Regions from separate parts of the Homo sapiens genome. Here all the other regions are linked to region 1. Evidence: fine-mapped expression QTL. A gene starts in region 1. Each other region holds a variant in brackets. All regions are shown on one strand. Distances are from middle to middle.

What was found. PIP is the estimated chance that this variant, and not a neighbour inherited with it, causes the effect.
Region 2: its variant is fine-mapped to the expression of REEP5 in whole blood (INTERVAL, PIP above 0.99). The same link has a PIP of 0.9 or more in monocytes.
Region 3: its variant is fine-mapped to the expression of REEP5 in whole blood (INTERVAL, PIP above 0.99).
Region 4: its variant is fine-mapped to the expression of REEP5 in whole blood (INTERVAL, PIP above 0.99).

The regions. Positions count from the first base shown.
Region 1 is chr5:112,917,368-112,925,509 of GRCh38, reverse strand. REEP5 (receptor accessory protein 5) reads left to right here and starts at 3,283. Exons shown (of 5, transcript NM_005669.5): 1 at 3,283-3,437; 2 at 4,254-4,347. The coding sequence starts at 3,320. LOC105379123 (a long non-coding RNA gene) reads right to left here and starts at 3,123. Exons shown (of 3, transcript XR_948675.3): 1 at 1,854-3,123. RefSeq lists an enhancer at 1,761-1,880 and silencers at 3,013-3,282, 3,643-4,092.
Region 2 is chr5:112,889,734-112,897,874 of GRCh38, reverse strand. The region is part of intron 3 of REEP5 (receptor accessory protein 5); the gene reads left to right. It also overlaps a transcript of SRP19 not described here and the pseudogene ZRSR2P1. Among named protein-coding and RNA genes, the nearest start is that of REEP5, 28 kb to the left of the region's middle. RefSeq lists a silencer at 1,007-1,056 and an enhancer at 5,419-6,618. The variant A/G (reference allele first, on the strand shown) is at 4,403.
Region 3 is chr5:112,942,485-112,950,626 of GRCh38, reverse strand. No RefSeq gene overlaps it. Among named protein-coding and RNA genes, the nearest start is that of REEP5, 24 kb to the right of the region's middle. RefSeq lists a silencer at 1-108. The variant C/G (reference allele first, on the strand shown) is at 3,781.
Region 4 is chr5:112,995,461-113,003,460 of GRCh38, reverse strand. DCP2 (decapping mRNA 2) reads right to left here. Exons shown (of 11, transcript NM_152624.6): 5 at 2,225-2,377; 6 at 1,992-2,104; 7 at 1,787-1,894. Among named protein-coding and RNA genes, the nearest start is that of DCP2, 23 kb to the right of the region's middle. The variant T/G (reference allele first, on the strand shown) is at 3,294.

The sequences.
Region 1 (8,142 bases):
TTGTGTCACTGCAGTCCAGCCTGGGTGACCCAGTGAGACCCTGTCTCTAAATAAATAAATAAAACAGAAATTTATTATCTCACAGCTCTGGAGGCTGGAAGTCCAAGATCAAGGTCTCAGCAGGATTGGTTCCTTGTGAGGGTTGTGAGGGAATGATCTGTTCCAGGACTTTCTTCTTGGCTTGTAGATGGCCATCTTCTCCCTGTGTTTCTTCACAGTCTTCCCTTTATATGCATCTGTCTCCGTCCAAATTTCACCCCCCCTTTTTTTTTTGAGACAGAGTCTCGCTCTGTTGCCCAGGCCGGAGTGCATTGGCTTGATCTCGGCTCACTGCAAGCTCTGCCTTCTGGGTTCACACCATTCTCCTGCCTCAGCCTCTTGAGTATCTGGGACAACAGGTGCACGCCACCACGCCCGGCTAATTTTTTGTATTTTTAGTAGAAATGGGGTTTCACCGTGTTAGCAAGGATAGTCTCGATCTCCTGACCTCGTAATCCACCTGCCTCGGCCTCCAAAGTGCTAGGATTACAGGTGTGAGCCACCGCGCCTGGCCAAATTTCCCATTTTATAAGGACAACAGTCACACTGGATTGAGGTCCACCCTAAGGAGTTCATTTGAATTTGACTACCTCTTTGAAGACCCTATTACCAAATAAGATCACACTCTGAGGTACTGTAGGTTAGGATTCCAACATGTCTTCTTTAGGGAGGTAGAATACAATTCAACCCATAATAGCAATGTAATATAGGGGTAAGAGCCTGATTCTGAATTCTAGCTCTGCCACTTATTGTGATATGGGAACTCACTATGTCTCATTTTTTTTTTCCTTAAATGAGGATGAAACAGGTAGCATCTTCCTCATGCAGCTGTGAGGATTAAATGAACTAGTCCACGTAACACTTGGAATACTGGGTGGTACAACACATGTTAGATATTCATTCATTCATTAATTCAACAAATAGTTATTGAACAACTACTAAGTGCCAGGCACTGTTCAATGTGCTTAAAATATTGAAGCAAATAAAATAAGCAAAAATGTCTACCCTCACGGAGCTCATAATCTAGTGAGGAAAGAAAGATAATTTAAAAATAGAACATGGTCTGGCATGGTGGTGGCTCATACCTGTAATCCCAGAACTTTGGGAGGCCAAGGTGGGCAGATCACAGAGTTCAAGACTGGCCTGGGTAACATAGTGAAACCCCATCTATACTAAAAACAGAAAAAATTAGCCGGACATGGTGGCACACGGCTATGGTCCCAGCTACTTGGGAGGCTGAGGTGGGAGGATGGCTTGAGCACAGCAGGAGGTCGAGGCTGCGGTGAGCTGTGACCACGCCTCTGTACTCCAGCCTGCGTGACAGAGTGAGACAGTCTCAAAAAAAAAAAAAAAAAAGTAGAACATAATGCCAGACAGTAATAAATTCTATGGAGAAAAATCAAGCTAGAGACCACTGGGGGTTGCAATTTGAGATTAGGGGTACCATTTGAACAAATATCTGAATAATGGAAGGGGACAGTTAAATGGTTAACTGGGGAAAGATACTTTCAGATAGAGGAGGGTTTCTGGACTGTCACATTATTGACATTTGGGGCTGGATAATTCTTTGTTGTGGGGGCTGTCCTGTGTGTTACAGGATGTTTAGCAGCACCCCTAGTCTCTAACCACTAGATGCTAGTTGCACTTGCCACCTCCTGCTCTCCTTGTGTGACAATCTGTTTCACAACGAAAGTATCTCTAGACATTGCTACTCCTCCCCCCAGGAGGAAGAAGGGGAGAGGAAGTGCTCCTGGTTGAGAACCACTGAAATAGAAGAAAAGTGAACGAACGCCCAGAGGCAGGAATGGGCTTACCTTGTCTGAGGCACAGCAAGGAGGGAGGCAGTAAGGGAAGACATCAGAAAGGGGAGGGATGAACCATGTCACCTGTGACCCTGATGCCCTCCTTCAGGCAGATAGGAAGTTGCTGGAGGGTTGAGAACAAAAACATAGCACAACTTGACGCACATTTTAAAACAGATTCTACTGTCTGCCACATTGAGAATTAACTGTAGGTGAAAAGACAGAAGTAGACAGCAGGTTGTTTCACTTGTTCACTGATTTGGCTGGGTGGTGGTAGGAACAGCTGAGAAAGCTGAGCTAAGAAGCTCTGAGGAAGAAAGGAGGAAGGAGAATTAGCATAAAAGGAAAAAGCTAGGCGTGGGCAAGATAACTTTTTGCAGAAGTGGAAGGCAGTAGGGTAATTAAGTAGATTTGAAAGCACAGAGGGGTTGTGTAGGACCAAGACAGAATGTTCGGGGCCAGTTGTGGGCAGGGCATTGAATGCTCTGCCAAGGAATGGGAGCTCTAGTCTGTTAGGATAATAATACGGAGCTTCGGACAAAAATTCTGCAGCAGTGTGCAGAATAGGAGTCAACAAGAGTAATTTTAGGAGTGTCTGGAAGTCATATGGGTGAGATAAGAGGAGCCTAGGTTTAGGTGGAGGAAGAGCATGGCCAACTCATTCTGAAGGAAGCAAAAATGAGCTCCTGCCCTAAGGCTTGGACCTTAGAATCTCCGTCTTCTTCAGAGTATTTTGACTGTAGGAAGTGCAGAGTATATTGGCTCCACAGAGAGAATTTGGACACTTGCCACAGTATCAGACACCAAGACAACGCAAGCCCACCATGAAAAGATTTAATGCAGTTTTTGCTTGGAAAAGGTGTACCCCAGGGAGGATGTGTTAGATTTCTTCAAGGGTCTTTACAAGGCAACGATTGTCTGTAGGTGAGAAAAACTGCCAAGTTAAGGCAAAGAGGGAGAAAGCAGGACTGCTTCCAAAGAGTTCTTTCACGATGCTCAAACATTTCAATTTTTTAGGTCAAAAATGCCTTAGGTTTAGCACAGCAATGTAGGTGCCAAACTCATCGCAGTGAATTGCAGGCGGGAGCAACAAGGACGCCTGCCTCCTTTCTGCCTGCTTTTTGCAATAGTCCGATTTGAGAAGGGGACCCACGAGAGACACAAAATGCACGCCCCCACGCCACATCCTTTTTACCCCGCAATGGGTTAAGACTGTCAACAGGCAGGCCACCTCGCAGCGTCCGCGGAGTTGCAGGCCCGCCCCCGCCAGGGTGTGGCGCTGTCCCCCTGGCGCTGGGCGGGGGAGGAGGGGCGCGCGGCGGCCGAGGAGGGGCGCGCGGCGGCCGGGCGGGGCGAGCGGAGGCGAGTGGAGGACGCGTAGACGCGCCGCGGTCCCCGCCTGCCGCTGCTCCGCCGCAGTCGCCGCTCCAGTCTATCCGGCACTAGGAACAGCCCCGAGCGGCGAGACGGTCCCCGCCATGTCTGCGGCCATGAGGGAGAGGTTCGACCGGTTCCTGCACGAGAAGAACTGCATGACTGACCTTCTGGCCAAGCTCGAGGCCAAAACCGGCGTGAACAGGAGCTTCATCGCTCTTGGTGGGTGGCCGGGGGTCGCCGCCGCTGGTAGGGCCACGGGAGCCGCCGCTGCCCCAGCTGCTGGGGAAGGAAGCAGGGAGAGGACTCGGGAAAGGTGGAGTCGGAGACAGACGGGACAAGCAGCATATTCAGGGATCAGGCTGGCCTCCCGGAAAGCGTGGGCATCGGAGGACCCCGCGGGGGCTGCCCAGGCTGAGGGTCGCGGGGCTGGAGGGCAGCTGCGGCGCCGGGCGCTGGCAGCTGGAAGGGCCAGCGCTGACGTATGTCTGCCCCGCGGCCCGGCGCCCTATTCCTGCTGTCCTGCGCGGTGGGCGCGGACGGCGGGGCCCCTGCGGGCGGGCGCGTTGACGGAGGTACCCGGTCCTACCCGACCCTCCGTGGAGCTCCGCCCGGAGAGGGCGCCTCTCGGGTGGGCGGGGGCTGCTACTGCAGCGTGTGCGGGAGTCCGGGCCTCTCGGGACGCTCCCCGCTGAGCGCAGCTTCCCAGGCTGGAGCGCTGCCCAGCAGGCCCTGCGAGAGGGCGGAAGCGGGTGCCTGGGACCGTCCCGGGCGCCGGGGGTTGCTGCGCAAAGCGCCGGGGCCCCCTGCGGGAGGTAGGAGAGGCACAATGGTGGGGCTGCCTGGTATCCCCAGACTTCAAGGCATAGCCCAGCGGACGCGCAGGCCCAGCTTTCGTGTGGTTTGTTTTTCTCGCTCCTTTAATCGAGTCGAGAGGAAAACTCCTACAACAGGCCCAGCCTCGCGGTGTGGGCGGCGGCTGTCCCGCGTGAACGGCTCTCATGCTGCCCGACCCACTTCTCTCCTTGTGGTCCCCAGGTGTCATCGGACTGGTGGCCTTGTACCTGGTGTTCGGTTATGGAGCCTCTCTCCTCTGCAACCTGATAGGATTTGGCTACCCAGCCTACATCTCGTAAGTGACACACCCTGCAGCCGTCCCCTTCCCTTCCTCCATTCCTCCCCGCAGGGCTGCTGCAGTAGACTGCACATCCGCAATTCCCGGGAGAAAAGTGAAAGCTCGGCGGGGAGGGATGAGGTTGGACATAAGGGGTGGGGATAGTATTCACCATTTTGGAACCTTAACTTAATCCCTATCTCTTGACGATTAGCCCAGAGGTATTTTCATTAGATTATCCTGGTGACCAGTGTCCCCTCTCTTTGGCACACTAACAGGAAAGCGCTACCACTCTGTCGTCCTCCCTTTACTGGTGGGAGGATCTCAGAAGGTACAGGGAGCTGAGCACTTCTGTCTAGTAATTATTTTAATGAGTATTTCACCATATATTTATGCACCTAGAGAGTAAAACCCTATCAATTAGGTCTTCCTTAATTCATAATTACGTTAATTGAGACAGTAGGGAGAATTTTCTCATTTTCTTTTATTTTGAAAAAGCCACATGTTACAGACAAACTTGGGAAATGCTTACCCTAGTGTAAAAACAAAAACCTTTAAAAATGCTCCATGATATAGCTCCTTGGTTATATAAGTGAGTCATTTATATAATTGAGCTACTTAAAAAATGAATTTTTACGATTAGGATCTGAATTTATTACCAAAGTTGTTTTTATTCTACAATGTGTTTATTTTTTTTAATTCTACGATTTTATTTTTCCATTCGTTCAAGTAGGAATTATTCCTCTCCAGAAATGAATTTTGTTTTGCTCTACAGTTCTTCCTAAGAAAGCCAGTGGTTTTTACCTTCATTCAGTTGGTCTCTGCTACTTTCTTCAACCATAGGGATAAAAATAAAGGAAGAAAAAATTTTCACCTAGGAGGCTAAGACACAGATAACACATTATTACAGCTTGTATCTGTCACTAGTTAGGCTAGAATTTAGTCTATGACTATAAGGGAAGAAACATGTTTTAGAAGTTAGTTCTGATTTGAGCAATTAAATTGCAGTTACCTAGTAGTTGTTACTGTGTTAGTCCGGTACAGACACTTAGTCATACTCCAGAAAGTCTAGCTACATATAGCCCTGAGGCCTACCCCGGGCTCTGCTTTATGGAGGAGACTCAAGGAAAAACGGGATTGTGTGCACAGAATAAAGCATACAGACCCCCGTGAGCAAATATTCAGGCGGTCGGTGTTACATTAGTCTAATCAAGTCTGTTCATTGCATAACCAATATGATTGTATAATTGTCCAAAAGAAAGAAAAAGTATTTGAAAATGGTGGTCTTTAGTAGCATCAAAATCCATGTTGCTTAAAGTGTGACCTGTGAACACTGTCTTAGTCTGCTTGGGCTGCTATAACAAAATACCTTAGACTGGATAATTTATAAACAATAGAAATTTATTGCTCACAGTTCTGGAGGCTGGGAAATCCAGGACCAAGGCACCAGCAGATTTGGTGTCCGGTGAGGGCTTGCTCCCTGCTTCAAAGATGGCATCTTCTCACTGCTTCCTCACATGGTAGAAGGGTCAACTGGCTCCCTCAAGCCTCTTTTATAAGGACACGAATCCCATGCATGAGGGCAGAGCTCTCATGCCTGTTTCTTTTCTTTTGAGACAGAGTCTCGCTCTATATTGCCCAGGCTGGAGTGCAGTGTCGTAATCTCAGTTCACTGCAACCGCCATCCCTGGCCGCCCCCACCCCCGCCAAATTCAAGCAATTCTCCTGCCTCAGCCTCCCTAGTAGCTGGGATTACAGGCGTGTGCCACCACGCCTGAGTAATTTTAGTATTTTTAGTAGAGATGCGGTTTTGCCATGTTAGCCAGGCTGATCTTGAACTCCTGACCTCAGGTGATCCACCTGTCTCAGCCTCCCAAAGTACTGGGATTACAGGCGTGAGCTACCACACCTGGCCAAGCCCTCATGTCTTAATTGCCTCCTAAAGGCACCACTATTTAATACTAATACATTGGGTATTAGGTCCCAACATATGGATGTTGGGGGAACACAACATTCAGACCATAGCAGTCACCTTCATTTTAACTATTCTCCATACCTCTTGTAACTCTTATGCTCCCTAGCCAGAGTTATTTTTTAAAATACAGGTTCATCTATTTAGCAAAAATCAAATGCCAGTCACATGTGTGGCACTGTGGTAGCACTTTAGATATGGCAAGAAATAAGGTAGTCATACTCTCTGTCCTTGTTGAATGAGCAGTCTACCCAGGCAAGAAATAGGCAAAGTAGTGACCGTGTGGTAAGCCCTCTAAAGTAAATAAACAGTTCTGGTAGAGAAGACCTGAGGAATGAGAAGGGGCCAGCCAAGAGCAGAGCCAGGGAGAGGGAGAAGAGTGTGTCAGGCCCTGAGGCAGCACACAGCTTAGCTCTGTGTGAGCAAAGAGTGGTGGGGGAGGCACCAGAGAGGTGCAGGTGCCAGCAGGTAGGGTCAGTGGTAGAAGTGTGCATTTCATTCCAGATGGTGGTAGGGAGTTTGCATTTTCTGATTGCCTTGGATGGGTTTTAAATAGGGGGTGACATGATACGATTTATATTTTAAGGTCACTTTGGCTGCTGTGACCTCTGTAAGGAGTTCGCGATCTTGCCAAACTATTGCCAGTAATTTACTTCCTTCCTTTCTCACCTTTCAGCCTTTCTCTTGCTGTTTCCTCTCCTTGGGCCATCACAAGAAGGGGAGTAGTGTCAGTATTGGGTCAAGAGACTGCAGGATGCAAAGATGAAATTGGGAAAAGCTCACTTGGCTTCCTAGCTTTTCTCCCTTTGGACTCCCTTTGGAAGTCTGTGAGTGAAGCTCAGGTGCACCTGGCTCCTGGTCAGGGTCTGCTGCACGTTGGAGCATGTAGATGGTTGAAGACTTGCCCAGTGCTCACTGGGGAGCAACCAGTACCTTATTGTATACCCCTCTTCCTACTGGTTGTTCTTTCCGTGTGCATAATTTCCCTTTGAGCTCTTTGAGAACAGGGTCTTTCATCTCTGACTTCTAGTTTCTAGAATTTTTGGCCATCTTATATAGGCAATTCGGAATCTAATTCCAGCCTTCCTTTCATCAAGAACTGTTGACATAATTACCTTAATCTCCTTACTTCCCTCTTTTACTGATAACAGGAGGCAGACTACTGGAAATGTTTATTATAAAGATAGACCTCCCCCCATTGCTAAGATATAATTTAGATACTTATAAATTGTACACTTTTAAAGTATGCAGTTCAGTGGCTAGTATGTTCAGAGTTGTGTAACCATCACCACTGTCTAATTCCAAAACATTTTTATCACCCCAAAGGGAAACCATCACCAATCACTCCCTATTCCTCCTACCCAGCCCCTGGAAACCACTAATCTGCATTCTGTTTCTATGAGTTTGCCTATTCTGAGCATTTCATGTAGACGGAATCATACAATATATGGCCTTTAATGTCTGGTGCAGCCCTGCTTCTAATGGGATTGCACAAATAAGAGTCCTCTGGAGGGTGTATGCTGTGCTGCACCCTCATATGTGAGTAAGTCCTCCTGGTGCAGTCCCTCCAGGGTGGGCGCTAGTGAGCCAGGGCCCTAGTCCTGTACTTGCTCCTTTGTACAAATGGAATTGTGAGGCAAACTCAGACTTTATCTTCTATTTAAGGAAAGGGGAAGGTTTGCTTTCTGTCCTACCCAGTAACTTTTTTGCTTAAAATTCTATAAAAATGTCTATTACTTTTCCTCTTTTTATTTCATATTTTCCTTAAGACTTGGGCTGCCACCTTCCTGGGACTATCAGAGTTGGGCCTTAAAGATCAAACAGGTAGTCCAGTTCCTTTA
Region 2 (8,141 bases), 28 kb after region 1:
GTTTGCCAGGCTGGTCTCAAACTCCTGACCTCAAGTGATCTGCCCGCCTCGGCCTCTCAAAATGCTGGGATTACAGGTGTGAGCCACTGCTCCCAGCCCGAGGACATGTTTAATATTTTATTTTTTGCAGAGTTAATATTGTTGGCTTTATTTTCATTTTTCTAAAGCAGCTGATAAGATTGGAGGAAAATAAAAGGAGCCAATGGCTTGGCATCAAAGCTTAGTTGAGAAGATAATATATGATGTATTTAGGTAGAAATTGGATCATGCATATTCTGAGCTTTGCTCTGACATCTGGCCTTGAGCAAGAGGGTTTAAAAATAAATTTAAAAGCTTTTTTTCTTGATTATGAAATTTACATATGCTCATTCCTTTATTCAGCAGATTTATTTAGAACCTCCATGTGCCAGATTCTGTTCTACATCTGGGAGATACTTTGGCGAATAAAACAAAGTCCTTGTTGTCCTACTGTTTACATTTGTGTGTGTGTGTGTGTGTGTGTGTGTGTGTGTGTGTGTGTGTGATGGGATGTGTTTTATGTAGGGAGGAAAATAACATTTGTAATCCTACATCTTAGAGTAGTCTTCCTATTTTTTAAAATGTGCAAATATATTGGTCTGTGTATATAAATAAAAACAGAACTCTGTGTGTATGTGTATATATATATGTATGTATTGCTGTCTTAACATATGTGTGGCTTAGATCACATATGATATATAATTCTGTGTCTTGCTTTTTTCAATTAACACAGTATTCTGAGTATTTTCTCATGTTATTCAGTATTTTTTGACATAGCTATCTAATGTTATTGATAATTTACCTACTTCCCAATTGAAAGACATTGAGGACATTTGTCATGCGATTATACATAATGCTGCAATTAATATCTTTGTATCCTCTGTTTACCTTCATTTAAATCATTTTCTAGATTTACTTTACTTTTTTTGAGACGGAGTCTTGCTCTGTCGCCCAGGCTGGAGTGCAGTGGCGTGACCTCTGCTCACTGTAACCTCTTTCCCAGGTTCAAGTGATTCTCCTGTCTCAGCCTCCCGAGTAGCTGGGACTACAGGTGCACAACCACGCCCGGCTAATTTTTGTATTTTTAGTAGAGACGGGGTTTCACCATGTTGGCCAGGCTGGTCTCAACTCCTGACCTTGTGATCCACCCACCTCAGCCTCCCGAAGTGCTGCAATTACAGGCGTGAGCCACCAGGCCTGGCTAGATTTATTTTTAGAACAAGGTTGAGTAAACTCTGGCAAGATTAGGTCCTGACCTGAATTGTCACCTGTGCTATTTCACCCATTGACAGAGAATATAACATTTTTCTTTTCTTTTTTCTTTTTTTTGAGATGGAGTTTCGCTATTTCACTCAGGCTGGAGTGGAGTGAAGTGGCGTGATCTCTGCTCACTGCAACCTGTACTTCCCGCATTCAAGCAATTCTCCTGCCTCAGCCTCCCAAGTAGCTGGGATTACAGGTGCCCACCACCACGCTAGGCAAATTTTGTATTTTTAGTAGAGATGGGGTTTCACCATGTTGGCCAGGCTGGTCTCAAACTCCTGACCTCAGGTGATCCTCTTGGACACCTCAGCCTCCCAGAGTGCTAGGATTACAGGCGTAAGCCACTGTGCCTCGCAACATTTTTCTTCTTAATGTTCGTAGGAGGCTAAAAAGACAGGGAAATCTTTCCTTTAACACGTTCTTTTAAGCTTTTATTTGTGCATGCTGAGCAATGTAGCCTGTAACTATTCTGTGGCTACACTGCAAAAGCTTTCTTCTGACATTAACTCTCAGTTCCGTAACTGCATGTTAAGCATACCCCTACCTGGGAAATATCTCTTCTGGGGGAAAATCACATGGTGACAGCATTAGAAGCACAGACGGAATAGAATGGCCTGTTGTAATTCGTAATTTAAGGAGTCATTGTGTCAGTGCTAATAGTGCCAAGAGTCCAGTTAAAATAGCATGGACTCTGTCTGAACTGCAGGCAGCAGTGGGCTTGTGAGTCTCCTTGGGAGTATCATCAGCTGGCACTTTGAGGGCAGCTTGATTGAAAAGAGCCAGATCTGTGTGGGTGACTTTAATAAACTCAGGCTATTCCTGGGCTGTAGAATAGTTACACAGATTAAGAAGAGAGGGTTGTAAGAGGTGGCAGCTGAATATCACCTTGGGAGTTGAACAGTAATTAACTTTATTTTTAACATAAGAAAATGATTTCATTTCAGAACAGGAAAATGCTAAGGATGTAGCTAGAGAGCAGTAATTATTTTACTGTCTCAAGACAATAGCTAGAGGGTACCAGAAAGTAGTCAATTAACAGTCTGCAGTCTAGCCTACAAAGTAATCACATTGAAGAGGTACAAAACTGTGGACACTTAATTCATCCAGAAAAGATAATAAGCTTGTCTGGATTGCTGAAGGGTTGGCATCTACATAGGCAGGTAATATTTCAGAGATTTTCCACAATAAGAACTTTAGGATTTGGTAATACTACTATTCTATTGTACACTTTCTTCAAGTACATTAATTTGTGACTTTCCTAAAACTCTGCAGAAGAGAAAACTGTCTCTTAGGTTGATTTGCCTAAAGTCATAAAACACACCCCACCTCTCCTGATTTTTTTTTTTTTTTTTTTTTGAGACAGAGTCTCGCTCTGTCGCCAGGCTGGAGTGCAGTGGCGCAATCTCAGCTCACTGTAACCTCCGCCTCCTGGGTTCCAGTGATTCTCCTGCCTCAGCCTCCTGAGTGGCTGGGACTACGGGTGCCCACCACAATGCCCGGCTATTTTTTTTCTAATTTTAGTAGAGACAGGGTTTCACCATGTTGGCCAGGATGGTCTCGAACTCCTGACCTCGTGATCCACCTGCCTCGGCCTCCTAAAGTGCTGGGATTACAGGCGTAAGCCACTGCGCCCAGCCCCACCTCTCCTGATTCTTAATCCAATGAGTCATTTTCACTTCACCTTAATGCTCTGGTTTTAATATGGACATCTGTCTCTCTCTTGATAATCCATTTCTGAAAATCAGATATTCTATGTAGGAATACATTCTATGCAGAAGCTTATTTTCCACTATTTTAAGTGGGAAAAATTTTAATGTATTACATGTCAATGTAAAACTCAACGAATTCACTAAGTATTAATAAAATACAGCAAAATACCTATATATAACAAATATCATGTTAGGATGTTAGATGCTAAAAACACTTGCTGCTCTCCAAATAGTTAATATAGTAAGTAACAATTGCTCTGTGTGCAGGAATACATAGCACATCCCCTGTGATGCTCTGCATATTCTTCAAAATGTCCACCAAGGATTCTGATATTCTGTCAAAAATGTTACTCAAGACATTTCCTGCATATCATAATGTTGTATTGCATTTTGGGGATGTATAGCTTTTCCTATATAAGCAACTACAGTAAAACATTGTATGAATTTTGGATATTAAAAACCAAAAGGCAGCAGGGTGCAGTGGCTCACGCCTATAATCCTAAGCACATTAGGAGGCCAAGGTGGGCAGATCACGAGGTCAGATCAAGACCATCCTGGCCAACATGGTGAAACCCTGTCTCTACTAAAATACAAAAAATTAGCTGGGCACGGTGGCATGCGCCTGTAGTACCAGCTACTCGAGAGGTTGAGGCAGGGGAATCACTTGAATCTGGGAGGCGGAGGTTGCAGTGAGCTGATCACGCCACTGCACTCCCGCCTGGCAACAGAGCAAGACTCCGTCTCAAAAAAAAAAAAAAAACAAAAAAAACCAAAAAAACAAAACCAACCAAAAGGCTTCCACAGGGAAATAACTAGAGAGGTGGTCTTGCAGGGTCTGCTGTAATTAACTGGCACTATGCCAAGGAAACAAAGCTAATGCCAGTGAAAAATACAGTCATTTAATTCTCCATTTTGGGTCAATGCAAATGCGTATCTCAAAAAAACCAAGGTTCTGAACCTCTGGCAACATCTTATAATTCAGTAAGATCTGCTGCTGGCTAAACTTAGGGCATGCTAGAGCAGAGTTGCTGGGAAAACTAAGAGTAACATCGAACTACTTGCACATACTGAGGGTACCTCAAGGCGCTGGCTTCCTTGGAGTGCTTGGACCTTTAACAGAAGGTCTTAGTCTACCATTGTGTGTGTGCAGAAGGCTGATTTGAGTTTTTGCATGATTGCACATTCATGCACGTAGCATTACTATCCATGTGTAGCGAGACTACTAGATGCTAGTCTGAGTCTTTACCTTTCCATCATCTACTGTCATGCTTTCCCAAGTCTGAAGATCCTGTTTTCCAAGATCTGTGCTCAGTAAACAAGCTTTGGAGTCTTTAAATGTAAGGAATAGGAAAGGTGAAGAGAGGCCTGGCTTAAAATCATAACATGGAGATTATGGCAGTGAATCCCATTGG[A/G]TTGAATGGTCTGATATGGAAAGCAGGCTGTGTAGTTCCACTAGTCCAAAAATTCTATTTTTTGAGACACAGTCTCGCTCTGTCACCCAGGCTGGAGTGAAGTGGCATGATGTCGACTCACTGCAACCTCCGCCTTCCAGATTCAAGCGATTCTCCTGCCTCAGCTTCCCAAGTAGCTTGGATTACAGACGCCTGCCACCACACCTGGCTAATTTTTGTATTTTTAGTAGAAATGGGGTTTTGCCATGTTGGCCAGGCTGGCCTCAAACTCCTGACCTCAAGTGATCCACCCACCTCAGCCTCCTAAAGTGCTGGGATTACAGGTGTGAGCCACTATACCTGGCCTGGTCCATTCTTTTTTTTTTTTTTTTTTTTTTTAAGAACAAAACTAGTTTATTTGGATTGGGGACTCTGAACAGTTCTGTCTCTATTACCCGACTTCCTCCTCCCACGACTTCGGCACCTAGAGGAACTTTGGCTCCGGCTGCGGTGGCTCCTGCGGCTCTGGCTCCGGCGGCCCTGGTCCCAGCTGCGGTGCCTATTTCTTCCTCTGCTTGGTGAATTGTGCCTCTCCCGACTCTTTGATGTGCGTTTGTGAGATTTCTTCCCCCTATGACTACTCTTTTTTCTCTCGGATTCCCCATTTCTTTTGTAGGTGTGGTCTGGACTAGGGTTTCTCCTTCCCCGCTGCCTGCTGTAGTAGTGGTCGTGGTGGCCCATCTTCTCCCTCCTCTCGGAGTTCTTGCCAAAGGAGGAGCCAGTCTGATCTGAAGACAAGTAGATGTCTCTATTAGCTTCCCAGAATTCATTGTTGGGATTTCTGAACACATGAAGAAAGTTGCAGTGTTTTCCTCTTGGACATTGTTGTATTTCAAATAAACCACAAATCGCCATTTTCCACCGGGTCACTGGGCAGAATTCACATTGCAGCTGTCGTCCTGCATACCATCGTCCGTTAAACAGAGAAAGGGCTGCTTGGCATTCTTCTTCCGACTGGTACTGAACATATACATTGCCCCTCAGGTGAGGTTCCAAATTGCAGCTGACCTTGAACTGAATCACTTTCCCCACGTTCTTGAACTCGGGCAACACATCCTCATAGAAATCTAGGAACTGTTGGTAGGTTTCTTCCTCGCTGTACTCCAGGCTTGCGTCAGGGTCATAGTCATCCCTCCTGCACTGCTCCATTCCAAACGTTGTAAACATGCTCTTAATAAGAAGGGTAGGACTAGATGTTGGGAAATTATGTTTACGTGAACATCTGTCTCCAAATCTGCAAGCTCCTGTTTTACTGTAGAAGGGACAATTAGCTCGATCCTTCTCCATTACTCTGAAATCCACGGGTGGTTCTGGGTTTTGCCATGTGGTACTATTTTCTAAATCATTTTCAGCCTGATCCAGCATCTTCTGCACAGCTTCCTCTTTTTCTTTCTTCTCCTGTTGTTTCTGCTCCTCCTCTTCTCTCTCTTTCCTCTGCTGTTCTTTCCATTGTTCCTTTAACTTTCTCTCTTGTTCTTCTAGCCATTTTTTAGCCGCCTCTTCCTTTTCCTTCTTTATTCTGAATTCTTCTTGTGCCTTCTGCTCCCTCAGCAACCACTCCTCATGTAATCTTTCCCTCTCTCTTTCCAATAGCTTCTCTTCTTCTAGTTGTTGTTCTTCAATAAAAGTGTCCTCTTCCTCCTCCTGTGAGAGTCCTGAGTCTCTCAGTCGAGCAAGTTCCTGCCGACGTTTCTTTCGTTTCTCCTTCTTCAGGGCGGCCCTGTACTTTTTGTGGCTTGGTTTCTCTGGAAATGTCATCTTCTTGGGAAACGTCATCTTCTCAAGTGCAGCCATCTTGCCAGCACCGCCTGACCCCTCAGACATTCTTAACCTATGGGAATATATGGAAGATTTTGTTCATAGCTGCCACTGTCAGTGATTCTACTTATGAATATTTTATGTTTTCTAGTATTGTTTTGTTTGCATACTTATATATATTACAAATTACTTTCATTTTGTTTCTCCTTTATATTGCAGTTAGACTTTTTTTGTAATTAAGTATATCATAAATTTGAATTTCATTTCATGTACTAAAAGGAGAGTTCTAAAATATTTACTTATGGCCAGGTGCGGTGGCTCACTCCTGTAATCCCAGCACTTTAGGAGGCCGAAATGGGCGGATCACCTGAGGCCAGGAGTTTGAGACCAGCCTGGCCAACATGGCAAAAACTCATCTCTACTAAAAATAAAAAAATTAGCCAGGCTTGGTAGCACGTGCCTGTAATCCCAGCTACTTGGGAGGCTGAGGCAGGAGAACTGCTTGAACCCAGGAGGCAGAGGTTGCAGTGAGCCAAGACTGTGCCACTACACTCCAGCCTGGGTGACAGAGTGAGACTCTGTCTCAAAAATAAAAAATAAAAATAAATATTTGCTTAAATATTTTTGGTTCTAGGATTTGCTTTCCCCTACTGAAAGCTAACATGTTCTCCTGTTAGTAATGTTTCATAGATGTTGTTAGAAAACACAGTATTCTTGGGTCAGAGAAAGTCCTTGCTATGCTTAGTAATTTTATTTTCTTACAAAATTATAGGGGTAAATTTTAAAATTTTCAATTAATACCTATTTTATAGAGGAAAAACCAGACTTAAGTGATTAAGTAACTTGTATAAGGTTTGCTTAGCTAGTAAATGGCAGAACCAGGATTGGAAGTTAGTTTCTTTGAGTCCATCCTGTTACTCTCTATATACTATATTAACTCTTTGAATCCCTCTTTGTTGGGTTGAGAGATCTGTATATATCTTTAGAGTGAGATTTTAGGCCAGGTGCAGTGGCTCACACCTGTAATCCCAGCACTTTAGGAGGCTGAGATGGGTGGATCACTTGAGGTCAGGAGTTCGAGACCAGCCCGGCCAACATGGCGAAACCCCATCTCTACAAAAAGTACAAAAATTAGCCAGACGTGATGGTGCGTGCCTGCATGCCTGTGGTCTTCAGCTACCTGGGGGGCTGAGGCGGGAGAATCACTTGAGCCCAGGAAGTTGAGGCTATAGTGTTTTGTATTTGTGCCACTGCACTCCTGCCTGGGTGACAAAGTGAAACCCTTTTTTATTTAAAAAAAAAAAAAGACTTAAATTTTGTGTTCTTTATTCTGTATTCTTACTAATTTCTAGGTTGTTTTATATATCAACTTTTTTTTGTCTTTTTGAGACAGGGTCTTGCTGTCTCACCAAGCCTGGATTGCAGTGATGGTATCACAGCTCACTGCAGTCTCGACCTCCCAAGGTCAAGCCACCCTCCCACCTCAACCTCCCAGGAGGACCACAGGCATACATCACCAAGCCTGGCTAATTTTAAATTTATTTTTTGTGGCCGGGTGCGGTGGCTCACGCCTGTAATCCCAGCACTTTGGGAGGCCGATGGGGGTGGATCATTTGAGGTCAGGAGTTCAAGACCAGCCTGGCCAACATGGTGAAACCCCGTCTCTACTAAAAATACAAAAATTAGCTGGGCATGGTGGTGTTTGCCTGCAGTCCCAGCTACTTGGGAGGCTGAGACAGGAGAATCGCTTGAATCCGGGAGGCGGAGGTTGCAGTGAGCTGATATTGTGCCACAGCACTCCAGCCTGGGTAAGAGAGCAAGAATCAGTCTCAAAAAAAAAAAAAAATTTTTTTTTTCCTAGAGATGTGGTCTCCCTATGTTACACAGGCTAGTCTCAAAACTCTTGGGCTCATGTGATCCTCCAACCTCAGCCTCCCAAAGT
Region 3 (8,142 bases), 25 kb before region 1:
TTTTAGCTTTTGCACATTTGTATGAGCATCTACAGTACAAATTCCAAGAAGTGAACTTGCAAAAGCAAAAGAAATGTGCATCTAAACTTTAGATAGATCTGGCTGGGTGTGGTGGCTTACACCTGTAATCCTAGCACTTTGGGAGGCCAGGGCCGAAGGATCCCTTGAGCCCAGGAGTTCGAGACCAGCCTGGGCAACATAGGGAGACTCTGTCTCTATTTAAAAAAAAAAAAAATCAATCAATAAAGTTTAGATAGATCAAGGCTGACATTTTCGGTTATCTTCAAGCGAACAGAGGAAGCCACACAACAAAGACAAGGAATTGACACAGAAAAAGAAAGGGAAGAAAGAGATGGGAAAGCCAGAGAGAACAGACTTCAAGCCTGACGTTCCATTTTACGGACCCTCTGAATCCTGACTGTCCATGTCTACTAAACCTCAACATGTGTTTAGTAAATTCTTGTTTTCACTTTTGTACATCTGAATGGGTATAGCTCCTTGCCATAAGTTATATCAGATTCTGAGGGGAGAGAAAGAAGGATGGAATGATCTTTACTCCAATTTAGGTTTCCAACCTAGTAAAGAGTTGGGGCAGAGAAAGAACCAAGCACTGAGTTACCCAATCCCAAGGTTCCCCACTGGACCAATATTTAATGGGTTGAGTTGCTTTTAAATCCAGTACAATGGTTGACAGAAGTGCATATTCCTCAGATATGGAACAAGAACATAACTCAAGGAAAGTCTTACTTTTAAATTCCATCTCTGCACCAGGGTAAATTCTTATTTTTAAAAACCCAGCTCGGATTTCACTCACTTCATGATCCTTTATCAACTGCTACCAGAGCCCACCCTGATCTCCAACTTTTCTAAATTCTCATAACACATAGCATACAAGGTAGACCACACATGGTTTTATTGTTCTCTGTTGGTCTTACCTCTAGGATTGGAGTGCAGTGGCGCAATCATGGCTCACTGCAGCCTCAAGCAATCCTCCCATCTTAGCCTCCCGAGTAGCTGGGACTACAGGTATGTGTCACCACGTCCAGCTAATTTTTGTATTTTTTATAGAGATGAGGTTTTGCCATGTTGCCCAGGCTGGTCTCAAACTCCTGAGCTCAAGCAGTCCTCCTGCCTCAGCCTCCCAAAGTGCTGGGATTGCAGGCATGAGCCACCATGCCCAGCCTGGGATTAGATTTTAAATTCTTTGAGAATAAGGAAAATGTCTTATATTTATTTTGAATTTCCTACAGTACCTTGCAGAGATAATATTCAATAAAGGTGCAATTGTTGACTGATTAATTCTACCTAAGTCATGCAAACCTGGCTTGACTTGAATGTATTTATAAATGAAAAACAAAGTGAAGGACAATTCAGCTAAAATCAACATGTGGTCCTGACACTTCAGCTATTACACTAAATCAGAGTGTTCAGTATAGAAAATAACCCAAATCTAAAGCTGTTAGATCAATTATTTGTATATAACTTTATTTATTGTTTTGTTTTGAGACAGAGTCTTGCTCTGTCACCCAGGCTGGAGTGTGGTGGCACAATCTCGGCTCAATGCAACCTCAGCCTCCTGGGTTCAAGCAATTCTCCTGTCTCAGCCTCCCGAGTAGCTGGGATTACAGGCACATGCCACCATGCCCAACTAATTTTTGTATTTTTAGTAGAGACAGGGTTTTGCCATGTTGGCCAGGCTGGTCTCAAACTCCTGACCTCAGGTGGTCCACCGGCCTCAGCCTCCCAAACTGCTGGGATTACAGGCAGAAGCCACCATGCCTGGCCTATTTGTATATAACTTTAAAAGGAGTAGAAGGTTGTTTGGAGAGTTATAATCACATTCAAAGTACACTTTTTTTCTTGAAAAAAATAACAGATTTTTTTGAAAAGTAAATGATGTAATTGAACTCACAAATTACTTCATGCTGTTTTTTCATTTCTATTGTATTCACATGTGATAGCATCAATTGTTGCTACATCAGAGATATGAAATATTTTATTAGGTCAGCATTATTTAAGACCTTTAGAACAGTAAGGACATTAAAATGTAAGTTGCATAATGTTTATAAGTGTTTAACTTATAATATTGAGTGACGCATGAGTTAAGTGTTCAGAGTAATTTTCTGCATTATCATAAAAGAAAACCATTTTTAATTTTAGTTAAAATTAAATTAAAATTAATTTAGTATATTATTTTACTGATTGTAATTTTATGTAATAAAATACAGCACATAAAAAAAATTTTTAGTGTTATCATTACATTCTGCAGTCTCTCTTTTCTCATCACATTATATATTTGTAGTTTATCTCATATTTATACATTACTCTACATCATTTAACTGCTATTTAGAATTTCATTTTAGTAAATCCACTTTCCTGTTGATGGACATGTTAGTTACTTCCAGTTGTTTCCCAGGTTTGAAAATAACGCTGCAAGGAATGTTCCTGTTCATATCTACTTATGCACACACATGCAAGTTTCTCTAGGGTATAGACTTACAAGTAGAATTGCTGAGAACGCATATCTCCAACTTTGATAATGCCAAAGAGCTCTCCAAAAACAGTTATAACAATTTAGACTTCCACAAGTAATACATGAGAGTTCCATCTCCCCATGTCCTTGCTTGATTAATGTTAATATAGTCTGTCACGGTGCAGAGGCTTCAGCAACCCAGATCCTGCCCTGCCCACTGTATTGCTTATGGGGATCAGTACCTTGTGGCCCATCAGGTGGCAAGCTCTGTTCTATTTCTTTTATATCAATTCAATCTAGCTTACTAATTTTATTTCTTTCAGCCAGCTTGATCTATTCGTTAGAGGAGGGTTAACATCTTCTTCATTGATTGAGATTTGGTTCATCATCCTTCTAATTCTATCATTTTCCCTTTTATTTATTTTACAACTATGGTTCTTTATTCCTATCTCTTCTGATAAATTCTTTTAAATTTTTTTATATTTAATTCTTGTGGTTATATAGTAGATGTACATATTTATGGTATACATGAGATATTTCGATACAAACACGCAACGTGTAATCATCACATCATGGAGAATGGGGTATCCATCCCCTCAAGTATTTATCCTTTGTGTTATAAACAATCCAGTTATACTTTTAGTTATTAAATTTTTAAATGTACAATTAATTTATTATTGACTATAGTCACCTGGTTGTGCTATCAAATACTAAGTCTTATTCATTCTTTCTATTTTTTTGACCCATTAACTATCCCCACCTCCTCCCAACCAACTACCTTCCCAGCCTATGGTAACCATTCTTCTACCCTCTTTCTCCATGAGTTCAATTGTTTTTATTTTTATTTTTACGTATGCATTTTTGTGTGTGTGTGTGACGGAGTCTCATTGTCACCCAGGCTGGAGTGCAGTGGCATAATCTCAGCTCACTGCAACCTCTGCCTTCCAGGTTCAAGTGATTCTCCTGCCTCAGCCTCCTGAGCAACTGGGACTACAGGCACCTGCCACAATGCCTGGCTAATTTTTGTATTTTTAGTAGAGATGGGGCTTCACCATGTTGGCCAGGCTGGTCTTGAACTCCTGACCTCAAGTGATCGGCCCACCTCAGCCTCCCAAGGTGCTGGGATTACAGGTGTGAACCACCGCGCCTGGTCCAATTGTTTTGATTTTTAGATCCCACAGATAAGTGAGAACATGTGACATTTGTCTTTCTGTGCCTGGCTTATTTCTCTTAACATAACATCCTCCAGTTCCATCTATGTTGTTGCAAATACAGGATCTCACCCCTTTTTATAGCCGAATAGTACT[C/G]CATTGTGTATATGTACCACATTTTCTTTATCCATTCATCTGTTGATGGACACTTAGGTTGCTTCCACATCTTGGCTATTGTGAACAGAGCTGCAACAAACATGGGAATGCAGATATCTCTTTGATATACTGATTTCCTTTCCTTTGGTTATATACCCAGCAGTGGGATTGCTAGATCATATGGTAGCTCTATTTTTAGTTTTTTGAGGAACCTCCATAGCGGGGGTACTAATTTACATTCCCACTAACAGTGTACAAAGGTTTCCTTTTCTTTACATCCTCTCCAGCATTTGGTTATTGCCTCTCTTTTGGATAAAAGCCATTTTAACATAGGTGAGATAATATCTCATTGTAGTTTCGATTTGCATTTCTCTGATGATCAGTGATGTTGAGCACCTTTTCACATACTTATTTGTCATTTGTATGTCTTCTTAGGAGAAATATCTATTCAAATATTTTGCCCATTTTTAAACAGAATTATTAGATTTTTCCCTACAGAGTTGTTTGAGCTCCTTCTATATTCTGGTTATTAACCCCATGTCACATGGGTAGTTGGCAAATATTTTCTCCCATTTTGTAGGTTGGCTCTTCACTTTGTTGATTGTTTCCTTTGCTGTGCAGAAGCGTTTTAACTTGAAGGGATCCCATTTGTCCATTTTCGCTTTGGTTGCCTGTGCTTGTGAGGTATTACTCAAGAAATTTTTGCCCATACCAATATCCTGGAGAGTTTTCCCAATGTTTTCTTGCAGTAGTTTCATAGTTTGAGATCTCAGATTTTTCTTTAATCCATTTTTATTTGATTTTTGTATATGGCAAAAGATGGGCGTTTAGTTTTGTTCTTCCATGTATAGACATCCAGTTTTCCCAGCACCATTTATTGAAGAGACTGCCTTTTCTCCAGTGTATGTTCTTGGCACCTTTGTCAAAAATGACTTCACTGTAGGCTTGTGGATTTGCTTCTGGGTTTTTTACTTTGTTCGAGTGGTCTGTCTGTTTTTATGCAAATACCATGCTGTTTTGGTTACTATCCAGTATAATTTGAAGCCAGATAATGTGATTCCTCCAGTTTTATTCTTTTTGCTCAGGATTGCTTTGGCTATTCTAGGTCTTTTGCGGTTTCATATACATTTTGGAATTCCTTTTTCTGTTTTTTTGAAAAATGTCACTGGTATTTTGATAGGGATTGCATTGAAACTGTAGATTGCTCTGAGTAGTGTGAACATTTTAACACTACTGACTCTCCTAATCCGTGAACATGAAATATCTTTTCATTTTTTGGTATCCTCTTCAGTTCTTTCATGAGCATTTTATAGTTTTCATAATAGAAATCTTTCATTTCTTTGGTTAATTCCTTGGTACTTAATTCTGTTTGTGGCCATTGTACATGGGATTACTTTTTTATTTCTTTTTCAGACTGTTCACTGTTGGCATATAGAAATGCTGATTGTTGTATATTGTTTTTTTTTATTCTGCAACTTTACTGAATTCGTCTGTCAATTGTAATACTTTTTTGGTGCATTTTTTAAGGCTTTTACAAATATAAGGTCAGATTATCTGGAAATAAGTATAATTTGAATTCTTCCTTTCCAGTTTGGATGACCTTTATTTCTTTCTCTTGTTTTATTGCTCTAGCTAGAACTTCTAGTATTATGCTGAATAACAGTAGTGAAAGTGGAGATCCTTGTCTTGTTCCAGATATTAGAGGAAAGGCTTTTCATTTTGCCCTGTTCAGTATGATACTAGCTGTGGGTCCATCATACATGGCTTTTATTGTGTTGAAGTATGTTATTTCTATACCGAGTTTTTTGAGGGTTTTATCATGAAGGGATGTTGAATTTTACAAAATGCTTTTTCAGAATCAATTGAAATGATTAGGCCAGGTGCGGTGGCTCATGCCTATAATCCCAGAACTTTGGGAGGCTGAGGCAGGCAGATCATTTGAGGCCAGGAGCTCAAGACCAGCCTGACCAACATGGTGAAACCCTGACTCTACTAAAAATACAGACTTCAGGCCGGGCGTGGTGGCTTACGCCTGCAATCCCAGCACTTTGGGAGGCTGAGGCGGGAGAATCACTTGAGGTCAGGAGTTCAAGATCAATCTGGCCAACATGAGGAAATCCCATCTCTGCTAAAAATACAAAAATTAGCTGGCTGTGGTGGTGGGCACCTGTAATCCAAGCTACTCAGGAGGCTGAGGCAGGGGAATGGCTTAAACCCAGGAGGTGGAGGTTGCGGTGAACAGAGATTGTGCTACTGCACTCCAGCCTGGGCGACAGAGTGAGACGCCATCTCAAAACAAACAAACAAAACAAACAAGCAGACAAAAACAGCCTTCAAGGCCGGGCGCTGTGGCTCAAGCCTGTAATCCCAGCACTTTGGGAGGACAAGTCGGGCGGATCACAAGGTCAGGAGATCGAGACCATCCTGGCTAACACGGTTAAATCCCGTCTCTACTAAAAATACAAAAAATTAGCCAGGCGTGGTGGCGGGCGCCTGTAGTCCCAGCTGCTCGGGAGGCTAAGGCAGGAGAATGGTGTGAACCTGGGAGGCGGAGCTTGCAGTGAGCTGAGATCCGCCATTGCACTCCAGACTCCATCTCAAAACAAAACAAAACAAACAAACAAAAAAAACAGCCTTCAGGGCAGTAGGCTCCCCTCTAGCCCAGGGTGGGTCCAGAAATGCAGTCCAAGAGCCTAGGCCTGGACTCAGGGACTCTAAGAGCCTTCTTATTTGCTCTACACCCACTGTGGCCAAGATCGTACCTAAGGTGCAAGACAAAGTCCCCTTTACTTTTCCCTCTGCTTTTCTCAAACAGGAGTTTCTTCCTGTAGCCACCACAGCTGGGGATGTGCTGGTTCATACTAAGTTATTCTTTCTTTCTTTTTCTTTTTTTTTTTTTTTTTTGAGACAAACTCTCACTTTGCCCCCTAGGCTGGAGTGCAGTGGCTTGATCACAGCTCACTGCAACCTCTGCATCCTGGGCTCAAACAATCCTCCCACTTCAGCCTCTAAAGTAGCTGGGATTACAGGCACCCGCCACCACGTCTGGCTAATTTTTGTACTTTTTGTAGAGATGGGGTTTTGTCATGTTGCCCAGGCTGGTCTCCAACTCCTGAACTCTAGTAATCCGATCACCTCAGGCTTCCAAAGTGCTAGGATTACAGGTACGAGTCACCACGCCTGACTTAAATTATTCTATCATTAAAAAGTTTTCATTTTTACCCCAAATGAAGCTTTTCATCTTAAATTTTATTCGTGACTCATGCCTGTAATCCCAGCGCTTTGGGAGGCTGAATTGGGGGGATCACTTGAGGTCATGAGTTTGAGACCAGCCTGGCCAACATGGCAAAAACCCATCTCTACTAAAAATACAAAAATTAGCCAGGTGTGATGGCGGGTGCCTGTAATCCCAACTACTTTGGAGGCTGAGGCATGAGAATCGCTTTAGCCTGGGAGGCAGACGTTGCAGTGAGCCGAGATCGTGCCACTGCACTCCAGCCTGGGTGACAGAGCGAGACTCTGTCTCAAAAAAAAATAATAATAATAATAATTCTATTCATTTGCTGTTAATTCCATTATGTTATTAGCATTTCTGCGTACTCTTTTTTTTATTAGTATTTGATTGTTATATTTTTCTTTACTTTTATCTTGAAATTTCTGGATGGTTTTAAGTGGGCTCCTTGAACTATTTACACTATTGTTTGCTTGCTTGTTAATCAAATGAGATGATTTTTATCTATTAGTAAATGAATTCTATCTAATAAACTTATATAGTCAGTCATCCTGGTATATTTAAATTTATTTTTACCATCTAATTTAGGTCTTTGCTTTACTACCCTTTTTCTTTTTTTCTTTTTCTCTTTTTATTCCTGTTGCTTCTTTGGGACTGATGAAATTTTCTATATTCTTCTTTCCTTCTTTGTTGGTTTTAAGGCTATGCATAGCATTTCTATTTTTTTTAACATGAATATCTCTACATTTTTCCTATAAAGTCTCCAATTACATACACAGTGTTTTTTCCTTCTCCTGAACAAGACACAAACCTAAACAAGCTTTAATTACCTAGTAAGTACTTCCACATTATTGTTTTTATTTTTAATTTATTTTTTTGAGGTGGAGTTTCACTCTTGTCGCCCAGGCTGGAGTGCAATGGCGCAATCTCAGCTCACTGCAACCTCCACCTCCCGGTTCAAGCAATTCTCCTGCCTCAGCCTCCTGAGTATCTGGAATTACAGGCATATGCCATCACGCCCAGCTAATTTATATATTTTTAGTAGAGACGGGGTTTTGCCATGTCTGCCAGACTAGTCTCGAACTCCTGGCCTCAGATGATCTGCCCGCCTTGGCCTCCCTAAGTGCTGC
Region 4 (8,000 bases), 78 kb before region 1:
GAGACTACAGACACACGCCACCATGCCCTGCTAATTTTTTGACCCTGCACAAGTCAGTTACAGACCACATCCTAGCTGAAAGATGATCTGAGAAAGTAAGCTACCCTCTAAAGTATAAAATTAAAGGGCACAAGATAATGAATGAGCAAATTAAGTAAAGATCCAGTCTCGAATTCTTCTGCAAAAGAATCTATTAAAATGTTGTACTAATGCAGGCTGAGCGCAGTAGCTCACACCTATACTCCCAGCACTTTGGGAGGCCAAGGAGGGTAGATCACTCAAGGTCAGGAATTAGTCAGCTTTTGACTAATATTACAATAACAGATTCTGAAAGACATCAGGGCATTTAGTCCAAGCTCCTGTCCTCAGAATATCCATCTAAAATGGAATGCTACTGATTTAAGAAATGCTTACTATAGAGGTGGTTTACTCCTATTTAATTTCTGAAGCTCTGTCATAAAAGCAAATCCAAATTACAGAAAATGTAAAAATCAACTCTCTCTAACATAGGCAACTTTGTAAACAAGGTGATTATGCTTAAAATATATATTATGTTTAAAAATACAACCTTATTTAACAAAGTTACTTTCCCAGCCTACTCTGTAACTGACTTGGATGCAATTAAGTTGTAAGCCAGAGGCCAGGCATGGTGGCTCACGCCCGTAATCTCAAAACTTTGGGAAGCTGAGGCAGGAGGATCACTGGAGCCCAAGAGTTCAACAGCAGCCTGGGCAGCATAGGGAGAGCCCCATCTCTACAAAAAATAAGAAAAAATTAGCCAGGCTTAGTGGCATCTGCCTGTGTTCCCAGTGACTCAGGAAACTAAGTGGGATGATTACTTGAGTCCAGGAGGTCAAGGCTGCGGTGAGCTGTGATCATGCCACGTACTCCAGCCTGGGCAACAGAGAGAGACCCTGCCTCAAAAACAAAAAACAAACAAAAAGTTCCAAGCAAGAAAATGTTCTTCACGGTTTATGTCCAGGTAGTAGTCACTCTTGATAATACACAATCTCTGACACAATTTTTTTTTTTTTTTTTGAGACCGAGTCTCACTCTGTCACCCAGGCTGGAGTACAGTGGCATGATCTTGGCCCACTGAAACCTCCGCCTCCCAGGTTTAAGCCATTCTCCTGCCTCAGCCTCCCGAGAAGCTGGGATTACAGGTGCCTGCCACCACGCCCAGCTAATTTTTGTACTTCTAGTAGAGATGGGGTTTCACCATGCTGACCAGGCTGGTCTTGAACTCATGATCTCAGGTGATCCACCTGCCTTGGCCTCCCAAAGTGCTGGAATTACAGGCGTGAGCCACTGTCCCTTGCTGGGAAATTTTTTTAAAAGCCCAAGTCTTCACTGTTCTATCTCCAATTTAACAAACTACATTAGCATCCTTCCTCTCCCCTACAAGAAAACAAACCTCAACATATCCTCCATCCAAACGTCTTTAGAAACTCAATTATCTTAAAAGTAGGATATGACAACAGAGAAGTAACACTAAGAACACACGACACAAGATTTTTTTTCCTTTCCTAGTGTTCTATCTAAAAAGTTGGTATCCTCTTGAGTATACTATTTTAAAAGGTGCCTGAAGCTCCTTTCCAACTCCAATTAACCTTTTTCATCTCATCAGAAACCCTTTAAAAAAATCTTCTATTATCTGTGAGACCAGTAACAAAGAGTATCTATAAAAAGAAATCTTACATCCTCTGCAAATTTTAGAAGCAAAATACTATTATTCCACTTTTAAAAACTATTAGAAAATCAGGATTCCATGAATGTATTTCTTTACCTCAATTTTTCCACAGTGGGTTTAGCCGGCGTGCTACCAGTTGAGGAAAATCCATTGTCACTGTCTGAGGAATCGCCAAATCTTCGAGAAAGCCAGTCCCTTAATGGTCTGCAGAAACATTAAGAATTCACTTTCAAAATATGGCTACAGACAGAAGATGACTATCCCAATCATGAAAGTTACATTTCAAGAAATATGAACACACCTGATAAAGGGAATGGCCATAAAAAATTTGTTAGGTGCCAAACCAAGTTTGGATTTGGGGGTCATATCATTTCTATGACAAGGCAATTTCTCAATAGAGAACCACTCAATGTTCTGAAACACAGAAGAAAATAATTCATTTAGTTAATTTTTATCAAGGAGCTTATAAAAGGATTTCCCTACTTATTCATTTGGGATACTGTCCAGTAACCTGAAAATACTCTTGTTACATACCCGAATTTCTCTTCTAGTTTTTGGGTTAAATTTTGTGTCTTTTGGAATTCCTGGAATGATGTACAAACGAGCAAGCTGGTCATTGATTCGAAGTTCAATGTAATCATCCTTACAAATATAGTCTTTGATATCAAAACCAGTTTCTTCAAAGACCTGGAAACAACAAATTTGGATGAAATTTTCATTTTAGTTCTTAGGCCTCTAGTTCATTAAAATTTATTCCCAAGACAAAAACTCAGAAAAAGGGGACATGACTTGTATTTACTATTTCTAGAAATGACAGGCTGGTACAGAAATGCATATGAGATGTAAAAAAAGTTCTTGTGCCCTATTGTTTCTAATACTGTATCCACAGGTGGTATGGTATATAGAGAACCAGTCCACTGTAGACCTGATTGCTGACATTCAAACACACACAAACTATATATCTTTCCCAGAATAAAATTCTGAAGGCTAGTGATAGAGGTTTCAAGATTTCCCACTCTCCAAATCTTAACATTTATATACAGAAGGTAAGGTAATTAAATCATCAATGATGTGGAACTGACTCATGCAAGCTGTCTGAGCATTCCAATCAGAGTAAAAGTCCAGATGCTTTGGTTTTCCTTTCCTTCGAAACTAAGGTCTAATCTACTGCTTGAGATAGAGCTTAATAATGTTTTTGATTAATAAATTAATCTCGATGGCTTGGATTTATAATTTTAACAATTAAGGCTGGTTTACTTAAAAGTTTACCTATCAATATGTGCAACTGTCTTCAAAGACACCATTAAGATCAAGAATATATTAAAAACTCAGGTAGGGTGTGTGGGTGTGTGTGTGTGTGTGTGTGTGTGTATTAGACAAGTAATTGCACTTCAAAAAAATAGGACTGGGCACAGTGGCTCACACCTGCAATCTCAGTACTTTGGGAGGCCACAGAGGGAGGATCACTTGAGCCCAGGTGTTCGAGACCAGTAATTGCACTTCAAAAAAACAGGACTGGGCACAGTGGCTCACACCTGCAATCTCAGTACTTTGGGAGGCCAAAGAGGGAGGATCACTTGAGCCCAGGTGTTCGAGACCATTC[T/G]AGGCAACAGTGGGACTCCATCTATACAAAAAAATGTAGATAAAAATTAGCCTGGCATGGTGGTATACCCCTGTTTTTCTTCTTCTTTTTTTTTTTTTTTTTTTTTGAGATGGAGTTTCGCTCTTGTTGCCCGGGCTGGAGTGCAATGGTGGGCTCCTGGCTCAGTGCAACCTCTGCCTCCCAGTTTCAAGCAATTCTCCTGCCTCAGCCTCCTGAGCAGCTGGGATTACAGCTGCCTGTCACCATGCCCAGCTAATTTTTGTATTTTTAGTAGAGACAGGGTTTCACCATGTTGGCCAGGCTGGTCTCAAACTCCTGACCTCAGGTGATCCACCCGCCTTGGCCTCCCAAAGTGCTAGGATTATAGGTATGAGCCACCATGCCCGGCCGCACGCCTGTTTTTCTAGTTACTCAGTAGGCTGGGGTGAGAGGATCACTTGATCAAAGGAGTTCCAGGCTACAGTGAACCGTGATCACCATCCCAGTGCACTCCAGTCTAGATGACAGAGCAAGACCCTGTCTTTAAAAAAAAAAAAAAAAAGGCTGGGTGCGATGGCTCACGCCTGTAATCCCAGCACTAAGGGGAGGCCAAGGCAGGCTAATCACCAGGTCAGGAGTTAGAGACCAGCCTGACCAACATGGAGAAACTCCGTCTCTACTAAAAATACAAAATTAGCCAGGCGGGGTGGCGCATGCCTGTAATCCCAGCTACTCGGAAGGCTGAGACAGGAGAATCACTTGAACCCCAGGAAATGGAGGTTGCAGTGAGCCGAGATCATGCTATTACACTCCAGCCTGGGCAACAAGAGCGAAACTCCATCTCAAAAAAAAAACAACAGAAAAAGGTTTAAAAAGTAATTTTTATATGTTTCTTAATTCTAGTTTTATAGTTATTTTCTTTAGCTCTGCTCTTTGAATAATGCCTCAAAAATCAGAAATAAGTATACATAGCTAGTCATATGAATCTGCATAATTGGAAATTATGCTAAAAGTAAATTGTATAATCTGAATTCCTCGTGGGCAGAGCCTGTTATCTTTGTGTTACCAACAGTATCTAACTAGATGCTTAATAAAAGAAAGTACTGAAGAAAAAGTAAGGAAGAGTTTCAGATTAAAGGAGACTGAAGAGACGTGTCAATTAAATGCAAATGCAGCAAGTAAGCATGGATTGGATCCTGGGTAGGCAAATGGGTGGGAACTGCTGAATCATAATGGGCAATTAGTGAATGTGAATATGAACTGTCCATTAGATAACAAACAGCACCATATCAATGTTACATTCCTGAATTTGAGAATTTCACTGTGATTGCCCTAAAAGAACTCCTCGTTCTTAAAACATACATGCAGAAGCAATTAAGGACAAAGGGGCATTACGTTTGCAATTTACTCTTAAATAATTCAGCAATAATAAAAAACTCTGCACACACATTTATCGAAAGTAATATAGCAACTATGGTGTAACATTAAAGTCTATTCTTTGAATTAATCTATTCTTCTCTACATACGACACTATCTCATCCTCAATGTAATTTTTATGGGGTCACGTAGCTATGTTTAGTTCTTAGTGCTTTCACTCAACTATGTACTTTGTGCTTAGTAAATGACAGGCACTGTTCTAGGCAGTGAATTTAGTAATGAATAACGCAAGCAGCACCCTTTAAGGAGTTCAGTCTACAACAGAAAAAATTTTAATATGATATAAGTATTATGAGGTAGGAGGAGAGTGCCCAACTCAGCCTTTAGTAGACGTCTTTGAGAGTTGGGGGATGGTCTTCTTTGGTTATGGACAGCAGCCTATTCTGCTGGATAAACTGGAGCTAGGACTTAAAAGATAAATAGGAGTTTGCCAAACCAACAAGAAGAAAAAAGGCCTTCTGTTTAGATAGCCAGGAATGGCTACAGCTTAAGAATTACAAGGGAGGAAGTAGTACAATATGAGGCAAAACAGCAAGGGCCACCAGCACTAAAAGAGGTAGATTCAAACTGTCCAATCAATTCTAAAAGTGATAAAACAGATTTGCCTGTAAAATTAGGCAAGTATTCTCATCAAATATTTGCCAGGAAAAAGTTATAATAGTTGAAATATATAAACAGACACCAAAGACAAAAATTTTTATACCACACCTCCTGTGAATCAAATCTATTGCTGTATTATAATATAGCGTTTAATTCTCCTAGCAGAAGGAGTATCAACTTCTCAAATGTTAGCAGATAAAAATCCACAAATAAAATTTTTTTTAAAGTGTTACCCAAAGGGCCAGGCTCGGTGGCTCACACCTGTAATCCCAGCACTTTGGGAGGCCAAGGCTGGTGGATCACGAGGTCAGGAGTTCAAGACCAGCCTGGCCAACATAGTGAAACCCCATCTCTACTAAAAATACAAAAATTAGCCAAACATGGTGGCGTGCGCCTGTAATCCCAGGTACTCGGGATGCTGAGACAGGAGAATCACTTGAACCCGGGAGGCGGAGGTTGGGGTGCAGTGAACTGAGATCGCACCACTGCACTCCAGCCTGGGTGACAGAACAAGACTCCGTCTCAAAAAAAAAAAAAAGAAAAAGAAAAAGAAAAAGTGTAACCCAAAGAGCAGCAGTGTACAAAGACAATGAAATCCTGTCTATAATCTTCATCCTATAAGCCTACAGGAAGAGGCAGAATAAACTGACCAATAGTTGCTTTGTATTAATTCTATTAAATTATATAAGTGCACATGAAAGTCAGTTTCATTACACTAAAACACTGCTTTGCCAAATAATAAGGAACGATATATTAAATCTTGAAACCACAAGTGAACAGCTAAGTATTATTCGCTTATTCTCAAGAAAGTTGATGTTTCACCACAAATCACAACAAAAATACAATTGAGATTATTATGCCTTCGACAATATCTAGAAAACATCTTTGTCCTGTTAAATAGAACTTATAGGAGGCCACGGTATGGACTGCATTCCCACACTAGGCCCCAACAGACCTAAACAAAATGGAATTACTCATGCTAACATTCCATGTCACCAAACCAAAACTAAGTTGTTCTCCTAACCTTCAAGATATGTGGAGAAAAAGAGCTAATAGCCAAATCCCAAAACAGACCAGTTTCAGTTAGCATGATAAGGAAGTCCCCTCTGCTTTAACCTTTAGAAGAAAACTAACTTTGAAACGCCAATGTACATTTGGTTTTTGGTTCTGCTTTCCTCAGCTCTTTTCTGTCTTTAAAGCCTACCTCCTTTGCTCAGCCATTGGAATGCTCATTTTATTTTATGGAATAAAATGTTGCATAATTCTAAAATTGCAAATAAACCCATTGCAATCTTTAAATTTGTTGTGATTTTGTCTTTTGACAGTCCTAAATCTATTTCACTGAATAAACTATCCAGAAATAGTCAAATTAACAAAGGTGAGCCAAAAGGTCAAATAGAAGATTGGAAATTACTAATTAAGATTGCCCCCAAAAAAAAGGTCTGCTAAAAAGAGGTCTGTTCTTAGCTCTCTATTGATAATTACTTACACCTTCTCCCTAAGTAGCTTGTCTGCCACTGCTGCTTTAGGCTTAGCCCACAGACCCTTCCCTGTTTGAGGATGTGTCAAATTCTGCTACAGTGTAACAAAACACCTCTGGAATGCCAATTATACTAAAATAACAACATTAATATAACTGTATGAATGCCATAATAAGCTAAATAAAAATGCTATTAGCAACTTAAAATTGTAAGCACCCATGGTAGAACTTAAATGTATGTAACTTAAATGCAAGAAAAAAAAAGTGCTCAAAACATCAGCCTAAGTCTAATCAGTAGCTAGAAAATTAGAACAAAATCTCTCCTCATCTGTTAATACAAGTGGAAATGAAAAGGAAAAACGAGGCATTAATAAACTATGAAGAATGGAATAACCATCTGGTTTACAACTGGTAATGTCACTCGGTCAAGCCGTGCAGCTTCTTTTATACCGCAGCACCACCAAGTGGCAGAAGGACAAACTGCAATTCTAGCTGAATACTTTCATCATTCAAAAAAGGCCACTGCTATGGACTAAATTATGTCCCCTCACCAAAAAAATTCATATGTTGAAGCTCAACCCCCCATGTAACTGTATTTGGAGATAGGGCTGTGAGGAAGTAATAAAGGTCAAATGAGATCCATAAGGGCAGGGCCCTAATCTGACAGGGCTGGTGCCATTTTTACAAGAGGAAGAGACACCAGATCTCTCTCTGCATGTACACAAGAAGGGTATAAGTGTGCTCAGCAAGGTGTTAATCTATAAGTCACCTTGCTCTTGGACTTCCCAGCGTCTAGAACCGTTGCAAAATAAATTTGTTTAAGCCACTCCATCTGTGATATTTTGTTATGGTAGCCCTCACAGACTAAAACAGCAACACTTCACCCTAATCCCAAACTTTACGACAAAGTCGGTCATTTAAAAATCAAAAGTCAAACTTGCCTTTAAAAATCCTAATCCAAAAATTTACTGAAATTAAAGTTCCTTAGTCAGCTATAAAAGGACATCATAGAGATCAAAAAGAATGTTTAGAGGTTAGAATTTTTATTATGAAAACGAAAAAATTCTCCCTGAAATTAAGAGACTACGGCTCTTCAGGATGCCTGTGCTTCCCTCAAACCAAGACAAAAACCTAAAATGGAACTGTTTTGTTATTCCAACCAATGTAATATCCTCTTCCTGACCTGGACAACCACCTTACTGCCGTTAGAC